2 linked regions of the Homo sapiens genome follow. The protein of the gene in region 2 interacts with the protein of the main gene of each other region in a pairwise test. Each region holds a gene or a part of one and is shown on either strand. Other genes may lie near its edges.

Region 1 (7,298 bases), on a different chromosome or scaffold from region 2:
AATGGGAGCAGTAACACCTATGCACTCTACTACAGAGGTGCTGAAGAGCAAACGAGGTAACAGATAAGTAAAAGTTCTTTAAGAACTGCAAATATAAATGCTTCCATTAACAGTACAATTACAAGATTGGTAAATGCTTGTAATTATTTAAATTGTTCTGTAGTACAGTTCAGTGTCAGTGGCATCCTAAATCAACTATAGGGATTGCTTTTCCCAATATCCTACCAGAAAAAACTTACAGTTGGCTGGCATTCAAAGAATAATCTTCAAATGTGGCGGCCGGTATACTAATGAAAGACTTCAAGAGTAGAATATACTCCACTTATAAAACGACACCAAATAAATATTATTAAATAGCTACATGCTATATGCAATGTTAAAATTCCCCATAATATAAGAGTCAAGAAAATAACAATGTTCCAAAATCCACTGGGCTACATTCTTATATGAAATATACATCTCCTCTACCTTCCTTTATGCCATAGCTGATAAAGACCAACAATCCACAGTTAGAATTCTAAGCTGGAAGAGCAACCTGTGAAATGTGTGATTGTGATTACAGAAATGAATAGGACTATCGTGAATAAAAAATAAACATTTTAAAATATACTTACTTGAAGGGTATGGGTACGGCTGTGGTCTGCGCCTTTTTGAAGGACAAAGGCAATCTGCCACAAATATCATACACTGTAAAAATAAACATTGTAAGAAATCTGAATGTAGAATATATGCCACAGCTAATGTAACTATTTTAAATAATCACATTTTTAAATATCTTTCTTCCTAGCACTCCAAAAATGAAATACTTACGAGTCCTAATAACAGTCCGGAAAACAGAGTTGCTAAAGCAAAAACAGTATATGATCCCCACACTGGCAATCCAAGGTCTTCAATAAAGTAGTTATGGCAAGTCTAAAATCAAAAGAAAAAAAAAAACTAAAAATCTGTTCATTTTTGTTAAAGTGATAGTGGTAAAAATGTTTAAGATAAAAATATTTTAGTCCATACCCTGATCCACATAGATAGCTGAAAGAGTGCTGACATACTACTCATCCTAAAAATAAAAGAGATGATTAAAAAACTGAGTAACATACACAGATTTGTCTATACATACTATTTTCTACTCTATAATTTCCCCAATATGACAGATTTTATTGCTGTTAATCAAGACTAGTGACACATCACTGATTTCATGCCTGTAATAAGCCTTCTTCATGAAAACTGTTTCTAAATTGACACTACCATGTGACAGCCTCATAAATAAAAATACTTGACAGTATTTTTTTCCTTTTCTCCCACTGTTTTGATGTTAATATTTTGTATTTCATCTGATGATTTCTCCAATACACTGAGTAAAGGGTTACAAGTTCCATGAAACCAGTTGGAAAAGGCAACTCTTACTCACCCTTAAAAGCCTTCAAAGCAAGACCAAAGGGAGGCTAAAGTAAGGACTGGAAACAATTGTCAAGCCAATTCTTTCCATTTAAGAACTATCCCTCTTTTTTATTGAAATTAATTAAAATTTACAAGAGCATTAGTTTGACATCTTTTAATGATATACAAAATTATTACATAGGAAATAAATGCTAAGTCATCATATAAGCAAAAATTAGTATTTTACATAATTAAATGGCCAGTTTTAAAAAGGCATGTTTCAGAAATAAGAAAGGTCTGTGAGTTCCCAATTGTAGCTGCTTGAAAATAGACTTACAAGCAACTACTTTCTTCTACTGGAAGGACAAGATTCATTTATGAGATGAGATTTCAGAGAACAAAAATCAGTTATACTTTTAGTTCGACACAGAAAGGTATTTTAATCATGTTGCTTCTGTTGTTTAAAAGCCAAGTGAGAAGAGAAACAAGGAACTGAAACATAAAGCACTGTATAGCCTCACTGTAGTCTGCAGTAATTTATTTCAGAAACAGTAGGATCCAAAATTGAGTTGGGCATGGTAGTTCAATGGGTGAGTGTTAACAGGGCTAATCTTTCTCCCATCCCCAGAATCTAGAGCATTTTTCTCTTATGTGATTACTGTCCCAACTCCCTATCCTCCAAAGGTAAGTGTGGTGAGAGGACAGGAAGAGACAGATGGCCACACAGGATCAGTCCATGGTGACCTCAGCAAAACTCACTGTTCCCAGAGGTCTCTCACATGACCAGTGAGGCCTTGTACTCCAACAGCAAAGCAGAAAGCATGCTTGCTACTTCCAATCCTTATCACTCCATAGCCAGTTGCTACGAGGAAATTCATCTACCCTCTAGATATCTATAAAGCTCAGTGCTTAGGCACACTATTACGGTCACCGTTTATACACACTATTCATATAAGAAGTTATCAGACAGGTGGAATAACCAACCAAACATAATTCAGTCGCTTGACATCAAGAGTTGAAGTTTATGTAATTAATTTAGTTGGTATCGGCAATTATTGACGGTCTCTATGGAGACAGAACATTAAAAGACAAATTGAAGTCTGGAGGTAGCATGAGTACAAGTTTGAGCCTACTCATTCAAATTATTACACTCGAGTGATAGCTTTACCCATTACACTGTGAAGACTCTTAGGGGCATTTAGTTTTTGATGATACATATGACCAAATCTAGCAAGCTAAAATATTCCTGAAAAGGTGTACAACTTACTTCTATAAAATGCCTTCTCTAACTCAAGAAGCATGAAAATATGTTTGACTTAGAAGGTCAAACTAAAAAGATCAAACATGTAGGCCGTGCATAGTGGCTCACACCTGTAATCCCAGCACTCTGGGAGGCCGAGGTGGGCAAATCACGAGGTCAGGAGATCAAGACCATCCTGGCTAACACAGTGAAACCCCGTCTCTACTAAAAATACAAAAAAATTAGCCACGTGTGGCGGTGGGCACCTGTAGTCCCAGCTACTCGGGAGGCTGAGGCAGGAGAATGGCGTGAACCCAGGAGGCAGAGCTTGCAGTGAGCCGAGATTGCGCCACTGCACTCCAGCCTGGGCGACAGAGCAAGACTCCATCTCAAAAAAAAAAAAAAAAAAAAAATCAAACATGTAATAAATGTGGATATACCTTAACAGCTCAAGAAACAAACTGAGTATGAATGCTTTACATAAAATATAATTATCTGTTCCAATTAATTATGAAATGGGTAAGAGAAAAAGCCCTCATACTTACAGAACAGAACCTGGACCAAACCATGATGAAACGGGCTCAATACTCTTCCACTCTTTATCACTTATAAAGTTTATGAAGTCCTTCTTAGTCCTTGGACCCTGATAGCGCCTAAATTCACCATCTTTACAACTAAAGAGAATCAGAATTAAATATTATCCAGCACTGAGAAATAATTTAATATTTATTTTGCTATTTTTTCACTTCACTTTACAGTCAATTCTAACATTCAAAAGCATTAGCAATGTACAAGTATTAATAGCAAATTATACTATTTACCTACTCATGACATTTTAGCCCCCAATTTAACAATGAGGTTACATTTTTTTAAATCATAAGCCTTAAAATGTAATTACTGTTATTCTTCCAAGTAATGAAACTATGAAATACAGTAAGTAGATAAATCTCAGGAAAGTACTTTTAAGCCTTATGTGTAATACACATATTAAAAGAATTATATAAAAATTATTAGAATAGTGCTTGGCACATAGTAATTATTAGCTGTTAAGCTATAACTTAAAATTTTAAGGCATTTTTCTAGTACTTTTGGCTATAATAGCATCACCTCAGACACCCTGCTTTAAATCACTGGAGGCATCTGGTATGGTGCTTCCCTTCCTCTCATTTCAGTGACTATTTAGTGAGCTTTGCAGCCTTCCTTAGATCCACCTCCTCCTTCCCATTCCCAATGTAGAAAGTTCTGTCAGAGTCACAAATGTTCTCTTGGCTCCAACATCTTTAAGTGCAAAAACTCATCAGCTCCCTACTAGGGACCTGTTAAGTAGGGTTAAGGGACCCTTTATCCACTCAGAGGTAAAAACCACGAGGAAGCCCCCCACCCCAAAACACAAAGTTTTTGTGAAGTGTCATTTGAGCTATTATTTGAAGCATAGGTAAGATTTCGACAGGCAGGAAACAGGAGAAAGGATATGGTAAACAATTTTGACTAAAAGAAAAAGGGCAGGAAATTCCAAATAAGGTCACAGGGCACTAAGAAGTGAAAAGCAAAGGGAGAGACTGAAGGGGCACGTGGGGAAAAGGACTGAATGAGAAGGGCAGGACAGAAGCACTTATGGAGACAGCGAACAGAAATTTATATAGATGTAAAGGGAGTAGGGGTGAATTTTAAAACCATAAAAAAAAGAAAAAAGGGCAAAGAAAAGCAAGCTATAAATACAAAGAATTGTCAACTTATTTTCAGTACCTCCTGGTATTTAACCTACCAGCTACATGATGTTGGGGTACACAGACTTGAGATTTCATACCCTCAATTTAGAAGATAAAGTCAAACTAATAGACCTGACACTGAAGACTACATAATCTTGCTCATTCTGTTTTATTACCCAACTGTCACCTATTACTCTACCCAAGGCTGTACAACAGCACTTTCTTAGCTACTTTTTGGACATAACATGTTCCTGTTAATGACTGTTTATGAGATTGTCCTCACAATAAAATGCTTACGCTCCACTCTTAAAATTCTACTTCCAAGGTTTCATTTAAACCCCATATTCTCTGGGAACCAATCCAGGTAACTGTGATTTCTCCTTTATCCAATTACCTACAGGACTCACCACTACTTTGGATGCATAATGACTTAACACGCTGAACAGGATCACACCATTTCACAAGAACATCACTTTCCAAAACAACTGTAAATCTTTGAGAACAGAGACTGTTTCACACATCACTCAACTACCTAAAGGCACCTAGGATAACACTAAGCAAAACAAGCCCTCTAAAATACCTGCTGAATATAATGAGATTACCTCAGCTCTTCCAGCATGATCCAAGCCAGAGGCCTACTACTTCTGATTACACTATAATGCATCCTTCTCCATAATTTAGAATCTTCAAATACTTACTGATAAATAGTAGGAAGAGCAGTTATGATAAACCGTCCACTCAGTCCTACAAATAAAGAACACACAGCAGGTTTTACATAGGCCAATCACTGACTACTTAAAACGTGACTTTGAATTATTTAAATACATACTAATAGGAAAGAATATGAAATTATACCTAATAGTTGAGCTTCGTAATACATAATTTAAAAATGAATTATGTACTTAAAGCAACTTTAAAAAACACAATACTGCACATTATCTCAGTTAAAAAGTATGTAGAACTAGAGTACTGAATACATTTTTAAATAAAAACACTTCAACATTTATATCACTGTCAAAATTAAGACTACTAGTAATAAGAGCACCTTGTGCTCATGGGAGAGCACAAGGTAATAGGGTCTTAGATCTAAAATCCAATGGAATTGTACTTGACATTCAACAAACAAAGGCAGTTTATGGTGCTGCTAAAAATGGAAAATACTATGAATCTTTCATGAGACAGGCAAAAATAATAGCAGCTAACATTTATTGTTAGCCATGTGTCAAGCACTGATATTACAGAGAATTGACCTGTGCCTCAGTTTTCTTATCTGTGAAATGGGGACATTACATATTTCACGGGGTTGTATAAGGATTAAATAATAAACACAAGATATTTGGAAGAGTGCTATAATAGGCAAGCGCTCGATAAATATTACCTATTATTACCATTTGGGATGGGACAGCCAAGAATCCAAGGGTAGTGTGACTACCGAGAACGGTAAGATGAGATTGGTCTGTGGAAGGAACCTCCTTAAGGGCAGGACCTGCCACTTGTCCAGGGACCAAGTCAGGAGTGCACTTGACCTCACAACCACGAGGGCTTTATATTTAGAAGCCCACATCCTCAAATCATAGGTACTAAATTTAAAACTCAATTTCAGAGATTCAGGTCTTCTTTTGTCAGGGAACGTGACCTTGACTCCAGAAAAACACTCAACCACATGCTCCTTATTCTGAAGCCTGGTATGGATGCAAATGTGGCTTGGCCAATGTTCACCTGAACCACAGTGTCCTAGGACTTCTCAAAGGCATCTTACATACTAGTCTGGGGCCTGGGATGCAAAGAACAACAAATCAGAGGCAGTTATGTGGGCAAGAATAAAAAGAGGGTAATGTCTTCAAGAACCCTTAAAGCAACACATTCAAGAAATGAGGTGTATACACAACCAGGGAATCTCCATTTTGCAACCATTGCACACTGAGCCCCCAGCAGGGAGGTGGACAAGTCAGGTTAACTAGCTGCAGACTGTTAGGTTTTCAAAACCTAAAGAAAGGTAGAATTAAGACTATGCAATGTAGAAAAAAGGATAAATATATCAACCCAAACAGCAAAGAAACAAAACTAACCAAAGACTTACAGTACCTGGCTGCTCTGTGACATCTACTTTCGCAATATTAACCTCAAGATCTTCTCCCCATTCAGCAAAACTTTCCCATTCCGGTTGAAGATTTTGACAAGCAGGGCACCACGGGGCATAACTAAGAAATACAGATTTTTTTTTAAAAAAAGTTAAGCACTTTAGTATGACCATTTATCTTGGGATAAAAAATTTAAATGTATAATTTATGAAGAATATTTCATATGAAAACACTGAAGATGATAAGGTGGTTAATTTTATGCAGATGAAAAACTTTTAAGGGTAGATCTAACAATCCGGAAATCAAGAATGATGAACTGATGATGCTAATCAAATAAAATTCTGAGAATAAGACACAGGATTTTTTCACATGCAAAACAGCTCTTTAGAAAACTTTTGCATTTCTCTATTAACGGTGTGGCCACCAGAAAGCTCAAGACCAAAGTTAGAGCTTACCAATTTTAATAATTTATAATGCAGAGTCACAAATGCAAGGTGTTGGAAAAACAGAAGTGTCCTGGGCTGTGGTGAATAAGAAAGCACATATTCCATCTTAAAGTGGCAACCATTATTAAGTAGGATTGCCACTAAGGATGCTGGCACACTAAGGCTGGCTATTCATATTTAAAAGAAGATGGAGAGCTGCATTTTTATATGAGAATGTTACCTCAAAAAATAACCCACACACAAATACTAAGCAGGCCAAACAAAACTCTTGGCCAGTTAGGTCATCCTGTTTCCAAGACCTTGGATTTACAAATGCAAGCATATTAGCATTTAAATTACTCCTCTGGTATTATCTCCTGAGGATCTTATTTTTCCACTTTATTGTATTTTATCTTATAATACACCACAGGGTTGTTCTTTTTTTTTTTTTTTTTTTAACAGAACCAGG
Region 2 (4,401 bases):
GAAATTCCCTTTGTAATAAGGGAAAAAACAAGCATTACTTCAAAACGGAATTGGAGGATCTTGTGAAATATTTCACATTATGATTTCACTGTTGGACCAAATACTGTTTTCTGATGCAGTTTTATTTTACTAAAGCAATAGACAAATATGTCTTAATTCAGTTAAGCCTCCTTTCCACACACTGAGAGCTGGTGGGTTTACAACTGGAAAGCTGACATCCACTTGGACTCCTAAGACCTATATTTGTCTATATTTTCTGTGTGGGGGTGTAAGCCCAGGTGGCATGACCTCCTCTATCCCAGACAAAAGTTTTCAAGACCATCATGACACCAGCTTCTTTGTACAAAGACCACATGTGAACACAATTCCCACTGAAGGGGGTGTGTGGTTTGGTAAGAGTGCAGCTCTAGTGTCCACAAAAGGAGAAAAGTCAGCCCAATGGTGTCACTGTATTGTAAGGTGGGACACCCGTCAGCTTAGGGTGTCTTCTGACTGATGATTCCTTCTTCCCTTTTACTGCCTTGGCACCCTGAGCTCTGCAGTCCCCCCAACCCCCTGCCATGCTGCCTGGGCCCTGTTGGCATCCCTGTGTCTGTCTGGCTCACTGAGCTGAGCACCCTGCAAGAACAGACATTCCTCATGCACCAGTGTCTCTCATGGCTCAAGAGCTTGCTTTGAATGGAGCCCACAGTCATCACTGCTGGGTTGAACTGATTTGTGCAAGCAATAGTGGGTAAACAGGTGGAGTAAATTAGGGTGCATCCCTGCCAACGACTTCAGTGCAGGCACCAAAAACAATGCTTTGAAATGATTTATTCACCTGGGAAAGTGATCACAACTTGCTGCTAATTAAAACCAACAATAGAACAGTGAGTACAATTGAAGTCCATCATTGTTATTATCATAAATATGCACCCAACAAAAAACAAACTAAAAGAAAATACACTCAAAAGCACACAGTGGGCACATTTTGTCTTTGGGTAGTGGAAGTGTAGGTAATGTCAGTGTTTGGGGTTTTTCTTTGAATTTTTAAGCTGTTTTAGAAATAAGTTTTGTTATTAGGAAAATTATTTTTAAAGAAATATACATCTGAGGGAAAAGAGAACAAAGGCATGATAAATAAGGGGTCCTTGGTTGGAGATGATGCATCCAGAACATTTTGGATAAATAAGCTACTTTGAGTTAAGGGCCTTCTCGGCCTCCTACATCAACACAGAATCTCACCCCACCCTCCTAGTAGACACTTTCCTCCCAACCCCCTATCAGCTACAAATACTGTCAGCTTACACAGCAGGCCTTATTATTATTATTATTTTTTTTTTTTGCTGACAAGTCCAAGATGGCAGTCGGAACTCTGACCCATAAAACCAGAAGGCTTAGATGAAGAACAAAAAGAAGGGAAACCAACCCTGCTTCCTTTTGCCTGTTATTAATCGCTGCAATAAAGCCATTAGAATCTACCAACATATCACCCAACTTGAAAAGAAGAGAGATTCTGAAAAATAGTCAGAAAAGAAGGGTAAATGGAAATGATGAGTCCCTCCCCTTTATGGCTATTTTAAGAAGCACACCATGTTATTCATATGGCCCGTGCTTAGCCCACTCCCTGAATTGTTTGATTTTAGTGGATATAAAAATTCTTCCTAAGGGCTTTCTTAGTTCCACTGCCAGCAGTAGTTCCCCATTTCTATTTCTCGTTAGGTCTCAACTCTTCCGTCATGAGTTCTATGTTCCCCAGGATTCCAAGAGCCCAAATCCTGCGGTGGGAGTGAAGGGGAGGCAGATGCTGGCTACTGATTGGCTCTGGGACTCAGAGTGGAGTCACTGTGGAAATCACTATTTCCAAGTTCTTTGGCAGTGGGAGGGTGGCGGGGGGGGGGAGGTGATGGAAGAACAGAAATTCCTCATACATCAGTGTCTCCCATGGCTTAGGAGCTCACTTTGAATGGAGCCCACAGTCACCACTACTGGGTTTAATTGGTTTGTGCAAGCAATAGTGGGAAGTGGGTGACTTTGTTGACAAATGCTAATGGTCACAAATCTGAAATCTTGCTTGAGTCCAAGCCCTTCTCTGGTACACTTAGTCCCAGTCTCTGGAATATTTGGTTTTGCTCATTCATCTTCTTTCTACCAGGGGAGAAGTTCATGGAAAAGACTGAAGCCCCAGAAGCCTCAGAAGCCCCAGGCCACCATTACATTCCCTCTCTATCCCAAGTGGCTGTGACTCCATGCTGTGCCAAGAGTCAGAACCTGGCTGGGAGAGCCAGGCTGCTGGCTCAGTGTGCCTGGCAGGTCACGCCTGCTTATTTTGGGTTGGCCTCCTATGGTCTGAGTCAGAACCCAGCAGAGAGTTCATGCTCCCCTGTGGAGGGAGATGTGGAGCTGACCCTCTCCAGCCTGTCCACGGAGAGGAAGGGGAGCCATTTAACCAGGTGCACAGCCACACGCCTGTGGAACAACTGCCGCAGGTACTTCCGGAACCTCTCACCAACGAAGGCGTAGATCACTGGGTTGACACAGCAGTGCGTGTAGGCGATCACCTCCGTCACTTGCACAGCCAGGTCCAAATGTCTGCTCTGCTCACACTCATGGGTGAACAGGAAGTCTTGGAAAACAGAAATAAGTATAGTCAAATTGTAGGGGGTCCAAAAGAGAAAAAAGATGATCATGATGACAAAAATCAAACGGACAGCTTTGGATTTCTTCTCATTTGGTCGTCTTAGCAGAATCTTTATAATCCCTGTGTAGCAGATGATCATGACCAACAAAGGCAATACCAGCCCAAAGAGGTTCAGTTTCAGAGCCTGAAACAGCTTCCACTCTCGTAGGCTTTCGTGAGGAAAGTGAAGGCTGCAGGTGTGGTGAGTGAATTCCCATTGGGTCTTGGAAAAGTATAAGCCTGGCATGGAAGCCAAGATGGCCAGGGCCCAAATGATGATGCTGGTGATGACACCAAAAGTGACGGTCCGTGCCCGCAAGGCAAACACGGCGTGGACGATGGCCAGGTACCTGTCAATCGTCAGCAGGATGATGAAAAAGATCTCGCTGTACAAGCCTGTGTAATAAAACCCAGAGAGGATCTTACACATGGCATCACCAAAAACCCAGTCATCCTTCAACTTGTAGTCGATCCAGAAGGGAAGCGTGAACAGGAAGAGCAGGTCAGAAATGGCCAGGTTCAGGAGGTAGATGCTGGTCATGTTTTTTAGCCTCTTGTATTGCACAAGGACCAGGACCACCAGGATGTTTCCAACCAGGCCAATGACAAATACCAAGGAGTACAGAGGGGGCAGCAGTTGGGCCCCAAAGGCCCTCTCGTTCACCTTCTGGCACGGAGTTGCATCCCCATAGTCAAACTCTGTGGTCGTGTCATAGTCCTCTGTGGTGTTTGGAGTTTCCATCCCGGCTTCTCCTACAGGTTAAAAAAAAAAAAAAGATTTGTCTTTACTCTGCTACTAAAGGCAGTGGGCACTGGACAGTAAAGACAAGGGAGAGGTAACATTTTTTCAGCCACTCCATAAATGTTTATTGAGTGCCTTCTGTGTACCATGCCCTGGGGACAAAATGGAGTGTTAGAGAGACCCAGATCCTCTCTGCCTTCTAGGAATCTTAGTCTAACAGGGAGTGGAAGCAATAAGTAAATGAGTGCACAAATCATTAATTCAATCATTTCAGCAAAGAGTTTTGTAAGGGATAAGTTCAATGGGTGGAAAGCCAGAGGGAGACCTTACCATACTATTCATAACCAACACTTCCTAAGCACCCCCATGGCCTAGGCACTGGACTTAGGGTTAAAGAGCCCTGGAGGGGTCCCATTGTTGTTCTTATTTAAGAGGTGATGAAACAGAGGTTCAGAGTGGTTAGGAAACATGTTCAAGGACACACCTCTTGTGAGAACAGACCTGGAGCTCCAACCCAGCTGTGCATCATTCTCATGCCCGGCCCTGACACCACTACGCTTTCCTGCTGCTGTCCCCGAGCAGTAGCTTTGCACTGTGGAGCCCACAGGAGGACTCTGAGAAGGAAAATGGTCCTGGCTCAGAGAAAGATACAAACAGATATTCATGGCTTTTGGTCTAAGAAGATTCTCAGCCGAGAGTGACCTAGTACCCTTGGGGCACTTGGAAATGTGTGGGCATTTGTTGTTGTTGTCACCAAAACTGGGGGATGCTACCGTCATTTGGTAGGCAGGGCCAAGGATGTCCTACAGTGCAGAGATCATTCTACCCCAAACACCAGTGGTGTTGCCATAGTGAAATCCTAGTAGGTCAACCCCATTATTTTGGAGATGAGGACACTGAGGGCACCAGAGTGGGCTGAGCCTGACCCACATTGCACAGTCCTTAGGTGGCACAGGTAGATCTAAGGTCACTTTGCAGACCTCCTGAAGGAGAGGAAAGT

What was found.
Region 1: the proteins of CCR1 (region 2) and TMX1 interact in binary tests that used the Homo sapiens proteins (3 or more experiments, as listed by UniProt).

Annotation. Positions count from the first base shown.
Region 1 is NC_000014.9:51,243,082-51,250,379, reverse strand, and holds part of TMX1 (thioredoxin-related transmembrane protein 1 precursor), read right to left. Parts: intron 6,525-7,298; coding exon 6,409-6,524; intron 6,291-6,408; exon of another isoform or gene 6,156-6,290; intron 5,068-6,155; coding exon 5,022-5,067; intron 3,289-5,021; coding exon 3,160-3,288; intron 1,055-3,159; coding exon 1,009-1,054; intron 913-1,008; coding exon 811-912; intron 688-810; coding exon 615-687; intron 1-614. UniProt on the Homo sapiens protein: Thiredoxin domain-containing protein that participates in various redox reactions through the reversible oxidation of its active center dithiol to a disulfide and catalyze dithiol-disulfide exchange reactions.
Region 2 is NC_000003.12:46,200,913-46,205,313, forward strand, and holds the end of CCR1 (C-C chemokine receptor type 1), read right to left. Parts: intron 3,413-4,401; 5' UTR 3,402-3,412; coding exon 2,334-3,401; 3' UTR 799-2,333; downstream 1-798. UniProt on the Homo sapiens protein: Chemokine receptor that plays a crucial role in regulating immune cell migration, inflammation, and immune responses.